Homo sapiens: one gene and its partner. The protein of the gene in region 1 interacts with the protein of each later gene in a pairwise test. Each region holds a gene or a part of one and is shown on either strand. Other genes may lie near its edges.

What was found. The genes of interacting proteins can lie anywhere in the genome.
Region 2: the proteins of UMPS (region 1) and ZNF227 interact in a two-hybrid assay, tested with the Homo sapiens proteins (one large-scale study listed by BioGRID and IntAct).

What each region holds. Positions count from the first base shown.
Region 1 is NC_000003.12:124,736,376-124,741,564, reverse strand, and holds part of UMPS (uridine 5'-monophosphate synthase), read right to left. Parts: intron 3,998-5,189; coding exon 3,326-3,997; exon of another isoform or gene 3,122-3,325; intron 1,542-3,121; coding exon 1,366-1,541; intron 1-1,365. UniProt on the Homo sapiens protein: Bifunctional enzyme catalyzing the last two steps of de novo pyrimidine biosynthesis, orotate phosphoribosyltransferase (OPRT), which converts orotate to orotidine-5'-monophosphate (OMP), and orotidine-5'-monophosphate decarboxylase (ODC), the terminal enzymatic reaction that decarboxylates OMP to uridine monophosphate (UMP).
Region 2 is NC_000019.10:44,221,841-44,227,029, reverse strand, and holds part of ZNF227 (zinc finger protein 227), read right to left. Parts: intron 1-5,189. UniProt on the Homo sapiens protein: May be involved in transcriptional regulation.

The DNA of each region.
Region 1 (5,189 bases):
GGCAGCTGTCATGTAAAGAACAGCTACGCTTTCAAGAGCTAAAGAAATCTCACCTCTACCACTTTCCCTCTTCTGTAACATCAACTGGTCTCCCCAATTTCTATACTATTATCTCACATTCATAAAAGTCTCTTTAGAAGGTCTGCCTGGCTTTCTGATTCGGTAGGTACTTTCCCCGAGACGTGACTCCCATACTTCCCTTCTTATTTGATACTTCCCGGAGACCAGACTCAGTACCACCACTGCACTCCAGCCTCGGTACTTCGAGACCTGAGACACACATTGATACATTCATTCTTGCCACCAAGTACTACTGCCAACAAACAAGTCATGTCTTGTCCTTGAGCCAGACCCAGACTCCCAGAATGCCAAATATTAAAACTGACTCATGGCCCCTGTGATTTTGAGACTTGGGAAATCAGACAGTTATAGTCAATTCAGGGATAGGGTTAAAACCTGACTGTAGGGCCATATGAGTTAAGTCTCCAAATAGTCTGAAATAATATGAAAAAATGGAAATCCTTTACTTCTAGAATCTTCACATGGGGATTGTCTTGGGGATTTCATTTTTAAAAAAATCATGGGGATTTTCTTGGGGCTTTTTATTTTTAATTTTTTTTGACAGGCTCTTACTCTTGCCCAGGCTGAGGTAAAGTGGCATGATCATGGCTCCCTGCAGCCTTGAACTTCAAGCTCAAGCGATCCTCCCACCTCAGCCTCCCAAGCAGCTGGGACTATAGGCACGTACCACCATGCCTGGTTATTTTCTTTTTCATTTTTTTGTAGAGACGAGATCTCACTATGACGTCCAACTCCTGGCCTCAAGCAATCCTCCCGCCTTGGCCTCCCAAAGTGCTAGGATTACAGGTGTGAGCAACTGCGCCCAGCCCCCTATGGCAATTTTTTTAAAGTAATATTATATTCTAAAATATCTGACAAGAATAAGAGAAAGCCACTGCATGTGGGCTGCTGTCATGGGAATGTGCATCTCTGTAGGACTTGGGAGATTCTGAGAAACTGCATGTCTGGGAAGCTCTTCTCATCTTCTCTCAATTCATGGTAAGATGAAAAAGACATTATCTTAAAGTCCTGGTAGATTTAGTAAGTGTTTGTTTGACTAACTATCTGGGTCTCAAAGTTTCTCTTGGAGTATAATTCAAATTCCTGAAGTGTCCACTACATGATATAAAATGCTATTAACTATCAAGGAATTCTATCCAACTAGTATTAATATACTGTCACACTAACAAGAGCTGGATTTTTTTTTTGGCAGAGGTTCCAGAAACGCCAGATTAGGAGATATCTTCTTGCAGCATGCAGCATAGCAGCCCCTGCCCCCTCTCACCCAGTCCCCCCACCACTTACCGCTGCTCTAGTGTAGTCCCCAGTGGCCAGGGAGCCGGTGGAGCTCATTTCCGCAATAAGGAGGCACCCCCGATGCAAAGGCAGGCCCACTTCTTGCAGGCCTTTCACAACTCCTGAGCCTGGCACCACGTGAGCATTTACTAGATCTGCCCAGGAAGCTATTTTAAAGATACCTCCTAAGAAGAAGGGGGAAAAAAGATATTTGCTGATTTTCAAACAAAACCTCTAACGTCTTGTCCAACCAACCAACTACAATATGAAATAATCTCCCAGTAACATGTTAATGAGAGAATCAAAACTCTTCAGGAACTTTAGTGATTATCAGCAGACCCATGGTTCCATCTGTGAAAACTGTATCTGTTATTCAGGTAAGTAGCTGGGTGAGAGATCACAATGAGAAAAAACTTTCAAGGTCTGCACTTGGCTTATCTGGAACACTAACAGGACTCTTTTTCCTTGAAGGCTGAAGCTCATGACCACAAATAAAGCTCATGCTATTAGAAAGGGACTCCAGTGAAGATAAACATTTATTGATGTCAAGGATAACATTTAAAAATTCCTCTTGAAGCTGGGCATGGTGGCTCATGCTTGTAATCCCAGTACTTTGGGAGGCTGAGGTGGGCAGATTGCTTGAGTTTAGGAGTTCGAGACCAGCCTGGGCAACATGGCAAAACTCCATCTCTACCAAAAATACAAAAAAATTAGCTAGGTGTGGTGGCGCATGCCTGTGGTCCCAGCTACTTGGGAGGCTGAGGTGGGAGGATCACTTGAGCCCAGGAGGTGGAGGTTGCAGTGAGTCAAGATTGCACCACTGCACTCCAGCCTGGGCGACAGAGCAAGACCCCATCTCAAAAAAAATAATAATAAAAATAAAATTCTTCTTGAAGATGACAAGTTTTCACTCTGCAGGGGTCTCTCAGCAGCTTTACTATCGCTCAATATTTCTACGTGTTCCTTAGATCTCCTTAGCTATCTAATTTCAATAGGCAACTATATTCCTTTTAAAAGCGGACAGTAACAAGCCTGATTTTCGAAAAAACTCTATGCAGAGCTGAAGAAAGTTTGTATAAAACTCTTATGTCAGTCAATCAGCTAAAGTAAGCTAGGCAATGTGATGAGGGCAGGACATCTTAAGCACATGAAGAAGTCACTTAAAGACAAATCTATTTTAAAGAAATAGCTTATGAACATGCATACATTAAAGAAAAGTTACCTCAAAGATGCCTACAAAAAATGTTATATGACACAACCAAATATCTGTTACCAGGTTAAGTGAAAAATGCATTAAATATAGTCTGATCACACAGTTGTAAAAACATAGACAGAAATTTGCATAGAATAGGCAGTAGAACTAAGCATTTTTCTCAACCAACACATGCACTACTTTGAGTCCCTATTTGATAAAAGAAAAATCTTTAAATAATGTTTATCAATAGAACTTTTTCTGCTACAAATAAATCTTACCATTTTATATTTCTTTTTCATTGTTTCCTTTATGTGGAATTTTCATTCAAAACATCATATTCTGCCAAGGACATCTGTCAAATTTGCTTGCCCAGGCACATACCCTTCTTCTGGTACTAGCACATCCATTTTCTTTAAGGAAATTATCCCTGACTGGTTCTTATTTCAAGAAGGTCATACAGAGTTAACAACCTCACAGTTGCAGAGCAAATTGCCCAGGCTAGTTAATGAAGGTATTCTACATCCCAAGCTAGAGTGATTGGTTTGGGGTGAGCATGCAGAGTATGCCTACCTGAGAAAGAAGTCAACAGAGAAGAAAGCAGAGCTGAGAGATGGAGAGAAAGCAAGTCATGAAGATATCACTTGAGCTCCTGGATCCAACCACGCTTGACAGCCTGCTCTATGAATGGACTTTCAATGACATGAGCATTTCCTTTTTCTTCTTCAGTTTAAGCTGGATTTCTGATTCTTGCAGATTCCTGAATAATACACTTACCTTCATACTGCTTTTTCACTGTGTTTCCTATATCTGCAAACTTCCGGTCTTCAAATATCAAGAACTCATGGCATTTTGCCAGAGTTATCAACTCCTTCATCACATCCAGAGTAAAATCATTCAAAATATCTACATGAGTCTTCAGCATGCAGATACTAGGTCCTAAAGCATCTGCTAGCTGCAACAGCTCTCTGGCCAGTGAAACATCAGCAGATAGACACAGATTGGTCTCCTTCTTTTGCATAAGCCTGAGAAGCTTCGATGCAACTGGGTGGATCCTGGGCAGCTCTGCACGTGCACCGAAGCTGAGTTCTTTGGGTGCTTCCTTTATAGAAAGGGGAGAACCATTATGATTCGCTGCCACAAAGACATTCTCCTGAATAAACCTCTTCACTCTCCCAACTGTCTCAGCATCAACTTTTTTCTGCTGCTCGAGAATCTCCAGCATTTTGGACAATGTACACACTGAGTGGAGGCGGATCCCGTGCGCCTGCAACTTGTCCTTGCCTCCCTGCTCTCTGTCCAACAGCACTATGGCATCAGTGACCTTCAAGCCCTCCTTCTGAAGAACCTCAACAGTTTCCAAAACACTAGATCCACTGGTGACAACATCTTCAATGATTAAACAGGTTTCTCCTGGATTAATAGTTCCTTCTACAAGACGCTTAGTTCCTAGAAAAGAAAAAATTTTGCTGATTCCAAATTTAAATATGTATGTATATGTGCGTATATACGTACACACACTCTGTATACAAAACTTGCCAGTTACACATACAGTATATGTGTATACCAATTCTGTATACCAAACTTGCTAGTTGCACATACAGTATATTTATGTATAAAGCCAACTCTGTATACCAAACTTGCCAGTTACACATACAGTATATTTATAGTAAATCAAGTAAATTATTTCACATTATAAACACTGCTTAATGTGTTTTATGATCAAATTTTCAAATAGAGAGGTTTTTTTTTTACTTTAAAAAAATCTGTTTTATCATAGAGATGAGGTCTCACTATGTTGTCTAGGCTGGTCTTGAACTCCTGAGCTCAAGTGATCCTCCCGCCTCAGCCTCCCAAAATGCTAGGATTATAGGTGTGAGCCACCACGTCCAGCCTAAATACAGAGTTTCTTACAGCAAGATCACCTAGATCAAGGAAAGTTATGAAACAGAATAATCCAGTATCATGAATGAAATAATTCCTTTTTCCATCAAAGTATTTTAAGTTCACTATTCAAGATCAGCCAAATAATTGACTTTTTGAAGACACAAATTCAGAAGGAAAAATATTCAGCAATCATTTAGACCCATTACTACAATCTAAAGAATTATATAATGCAATGTGATTAAATATATACTTCTCTACCCAAATCCCACTAGACTATTTTCAGATAATCTACAAAACGTAAATAACTTGGGCTGTAGACTTTAGACTCATCAAATCCTTTCCGCTTCTTGAACAACTGGTAAGTTTAACTGAATCAGCTTAAGCTAGAACACAAGACTGCAAGTATTTATAGTATATTTAAAAATGCATAATTTCATAGAAACAGTTTTTAAAACATAAAATAATAGAAATAAGAGTTTTCTTATGGGTAGGGATTCATACAGTTTTTTTTTAGCTCAGAAAGTCTCAGCTGGGTGCAGTGGCTCACACCTGTAATCCCAGCACTTTGGGAGGATGAGGCAGGAGGATGGCTTGAGACCAGGAGTTCAAGACCAGCCTGGGCAACAGAGTGAGACCTTGTCTCAAAAAAACAAAAAACAAAAACAGAAAAACTAACACTGCCCTTACGCCACAAAAACTCAACTAATATGTTTCTTTTTTTTAATCATAAAAATTTTCAGAATGCATCTGTAGA
Region 2 (5,189 bases), on another chromosome or scaffold:
ACAGATTTTTACTTATAACCAATACTACAAAGATCCTTTTACAGAGCTCATGGCCAAGAAGTAGCAACTGCAAAGTCATAGAATATTTACTTTAAAAGTTTTGAGGGGTGGAGCCAAGATGGCTGAATAGGAACAGCTCCGGTCTACAGCTCCCAGCATGAGCAATGCAGAAGACGGGTGATTTCTGCATTTCCATCTGAGGTACTGGGTTCATCTCACTAGGGAGTGCCAGACAGTGGGCGCAGGGCAGTGGGTGCAGCACACTGGGTGTGAGCCAAAGCAGGGTGAGGCATTGCCTCACTTGGGAAGCACAAGGGGTCAAGGAGTTCCCTTTCCTAGTCAAAGAAAGGGGTGACAGACGGCACCTGGAAAATCAGGTCACTCCCACCCTAATACTGCGCTTTTCCAATGGACTTAAAAAACGGCACACCAGGAGATTATATCCTGCACATGGCTCGGAGGGTCCTACGCCCACAGAGTCTCGCTGATTGCTAGCACAGCAGTCTGAGATCAAACTGCAAGGAGGCAGCGAGGCTGGGGGAGGGCGCCTGCCATTGCCCAGGCTTGATTAGGTAAACAAAGCAGCCTGGAAGCTCGAACTGGGTGGAGCCCACCACAGCTCAAGGAGGCCTGCCTGCCTCTGTAGGCTCCACCTCTAGGGGCAGGGCACAAACAAAAAGACAGCAATAACCTCTGCAGACTTAAATGTCCCTGTCTGACAGCTTTGAACAGAGTAGTGGTTCTCCCAGCATGCAGCTGGAGATCTGAGATCCGGCAGACTGCCTCCTGAAGTGGGTCCTTGACCTCCAAGCAGCCTAACTGGGAGACACCCCCCCAGTAGGGGCAGACTGACACCTCACACAGCTGAGTACTCCTCTGAGACAAAACTTCCAGAGGAACAATCAGGCAGCAGCATTTGCAGATCACCAATATCTGCTGTTCTACAGCCACCGCTGTTCTGCAGCCACCGCTGCTGATACCCAGGCAAAAAGGGTCTGGAGTGGACCTCTAGCAAACTCCAACAGACCTGCAGCTGAGGGTCCTGTCTGTTAGAAGGAACACTAACAAACAGAAAGGACATCCACACCAAAAACCCATCTGTACATCACCAGCATCAAAGACCAAAACTAGATAAAACCATAAAGATGGGGAAAAAACAGAGCAGAAAAACTGGAAACTCTAAAAAGCAGAGCGCCTCTCCTCCTCCAAAGGAATGCAGCTCCTCACCAGCAATGGAACAAAGCTGGATGGAGAATGACTTTGACGAGTTGAGAGAAGGCTTCAGACGATCAAACTACTCCGAGCTTCAGGAGGAAATTCAAACAAATGGCAAAGAAGTTAAAAACTTTGAAAAAAATTTAGACAAATGTATAACTAGAATAACCAATACAGAGAAGTGCTTAAAGGAGCTGATGGAGCTGAAAGCCAAGGCTCGAGAACTACATGAAGAATGCAGAAGCCTCAGGAGCCGATGCGATCAACTGGAAGAAAGGGTATCAGTGATGGAAGATGAAATGAATGAAATGAAGCGAGAACGGAAGTTCAGAGAAAAAAGAATAAAAAGAAACGAACAAAGCCTCCAAGAAATATGGGACTATGTGAAAAGACCAGATCTACGTCTGATTGGTGTACCTGAAAGTGACGGGGAGAATGGAACCAAGTTGGAAACACTCTGCAGGATATTATCCAAGAGAACTTCCCCAATCTAGCAAGGCAGGCCAACATTCAGATTCAGGAAATACAGAGAACGCCACAAAGATACTCCTCGAGAAGAGCAACTCCAAGACACATAATTGTCAGATTCACCAAAGTTGAAATGAAGGAAAAAATGTTAAGGGCAGCCAGAGAGAAAGGTCAGGTTACCCACAAAGGGAAGCCCATCAGACTAACAGCGGATCTCTCGGCAGAAACTCTACAAGCCAGAAGAGAGTGGGGGCCAATATTCAACATTCTTAAAGAAAAGAATTTTCAACCCAGAATTTCATATCCAGCCAAACTAAGCTTCATAAGTGAAGGAGAAATAAAATACTTTACAGACAAGCAAATGCTGAGAGATTTTGTCACCACCAGGCCTGCCCTAAAAGACCTCCTGAAGGAAGCACTAAACATGGAAAGGAACAACCAGTACCAGCCACTGCAAAATCATGCCAAAATGTAAAGACCATCAAGGCTAGGAAGAAACTGCATCAACTAACGAGCAAAATAACCAGCTAACATCAAAATGACAGGACAAAATTCACACATAACAATATTAACTTTAAATGTAAATGGGCTAAATGCACCAATTAAAAGACATAGACTGGCAAATTGGATAAAGAGTCAAGACCCATCAGTGTGCTGTATTCAGGAAACCCATCTCACGTGCAGAGACACACATAGGCTCAAAATAAAAGGATGGAGGAAGATCTACCAAGCAAATGGAAAACAAAAAAAAGGCAGGGGTTGCAATCCTTGTCTCTGATAAAACAGACTTTAAACCAACAAAGATCAAAAGAGACAAAGAAGGCCATTACATAATGGTAAAGGGATCAATTCAACAAGAGCTAACTATCCTAAATATATATGCACCTAATACAGGAGCACCCAGATTGATAAAGCAAGTCCTGAGTGACCTACAAAGAGACTTAGACACCCACACAATAATAATGGGGGACTTTAACACCCCACTGTCAGCATCAGACAGATCAACGAGACAGAAAGTTAACAAGGATACCCAGGAATTGAACTCAGCTCTGCACCAAGTGGACCTAATAGACATCTACAGAACTCTCCACCCCAAATCAACAGAATATACATTTTTTTCAGCACCACACCACAACTATTCCAAAATTGACCACATAGTTGGAAGTAAAGCTCTCCTCAGCAAATGTAAAAGAACAGAAATTATAACAAACTGTCTGTCTCTCAGACCACAGTGTAATCAAACTAGAACTCAGGATTAAGAAACTCACTCAAAACTGCTCAACTACATGGAAACTGAACAACCTGCTCCTGAATGACTACTGGGTATATAACAAAATGAAGGCAGAAATAAAGATGTGTCTTTGTTCTCATTGGTTTCAAAGAACAACATACCAGAATCTCTGGGACGCATTCAAAGCAGTGTGTAGAGGGAAATTTATAGCACTAAATGCCCACAAGAGAAAGCAGGAAAGATCCAAAACTGACACCCTAACATCACAATTAAAAGAACTAGAAAAGCAAGAGCTAACACATTCAAAAGCTAGCAGAAGGCAAGAAATAACTAAAATCAGAGCAGAACTGAAGGAAATAGAGACACAAAAAACCCTTCAAAAAATTAATGAATCCAGGAGCTGGTTTTTTGAAAAGATCAACAAAATTGATAGACCGCTAGCAAGACTAATAAAGAAAAAAAGAGAGAAGAATCAAATAGACCCAATAAAAAATGATAAATGGGATATCACCACTGATCCCACAGAAATACAAACTACCATCAGAGAATACTACAAACACCTCTACGCAAATAAATTAGAAAATCTAGAAGAAATGGATAAATTCCTCAACACATACACCCTCCCAAGACTAAACCAGGAAGAAGTTGAATCTCTGAATAGACCAATAACAGGCTCTGAAATTGTGGCAATAATCAATAGCTTACCAACCAAAAAGAGTCCAGGACCAGATGGATTCACAGCAGAATTCTACCAGAGGTACAAGGAGGAGCTGGTACCATTCCTTCTGAAACTATTCCAATCAATAGAAAAAGAGGGAATCCTCCCTAACTCATTTTATGAGGCTAGCATCATCCTGATACCAAAGCCAGGCAGAGACACAACCAAAAAAGAGAATTTTAGACCAATATCCTTGATGAACATTGATGTAAAAATCCTCAATAAAATACTGGCAAACCAAATCCAGCAGCACATCAAAAAGCTTATCCACCATGATCAAGTGGGCTTCATCCCTGGGATGCAAGGCTGGTTCAACATACGCAAATCAATAAATGTAATACAGCATATAAAGAAACCCAAAGACAAAAACCACATGATTATCTCAATAGATGCAGAAAAGGCCTTTGACAAAATTCAACAACCCTTCATGCTAAAAACTCTCAATAAATTAGGTATTGATGGGACATATCTCAAAATAATAAGAGCTATCTATGACAAACCCACAGCCAATATCATACTGAATGGGCAAAAACTGGAAGCATTCCCTTTGAAAACTGGCACAAGACAGGGGTGCCCTCTCTCACCACTCCTATTCAACATAGTGTTGGAAGTTCTGGCCAGGGCAATCAGGCAGGAGAAGGAAATAAAGGGTATTCAATTAGGAAAAGAGGAAGTCAAATTGTCCCTGTTTGCAGATGACATGATTGTATATCTAGAAAACCCCATTGTCTCAGCCCAAAATCTCCTTAAGCTGATAAGCAACTTCAGCAAAGTCTCAGGATACAAAGTCAATGTACAAAAATCACAAGCATTCTTATACACCAATAACAGACAAACAGAGAGCCAAATCATGAGTGAACTCCCATTCACAATTGCTTCAAAGAGAATAAAATACCTAGGAATCCAACTTACAAGGGATGTGAAGGACCTCTTCAAGGAGAACTACAAACCACTGCTCGATGAAATAAAAGAGGATACAAACAAATGGAAGAACATTCCATGCTCATGGGTAGGAAGAATCAATATCGTGAAAATGTCCATACTGCCCAAGGTAATTTATAGATTCAATGCCATCCCCATCAAGCTACCAATGACTTTCTTCACAGAATAGGAAAAAACTACTGTAAAGTTCATATGGAACCAAAAAAGAGCCCACATCGCCAAGTCAATCCTAGGCCAAAAGAACAAAGCTGGAGGCATCATGCTACCTGACTTCAAACTATACTACAAGGCTACAGTAACCAAAACAGCATGGTACTGGTACCAAAACAGAGATATAGATCAATGGAACAGAACAGAGCCCTCAGAAATAACGCCACAGATCTACAACTATCTGATCTTTGACAAACCTGAGAAAAACAAGCAATGGGGAAAGGATTCCCTATTTAATAAATGATGCTGGGAAAACTGGTTAGCCATATGTAGAAAGCTGAAACTGGATCCCTTCCTTACACTTTATACAAAAATTAATTCAAGATGGATTAAAGACTTAAACATTAGACCTAAAACCATAAAAACCCTAGAAGAAAACCTAGGCATTACCATTCAGGACATAGG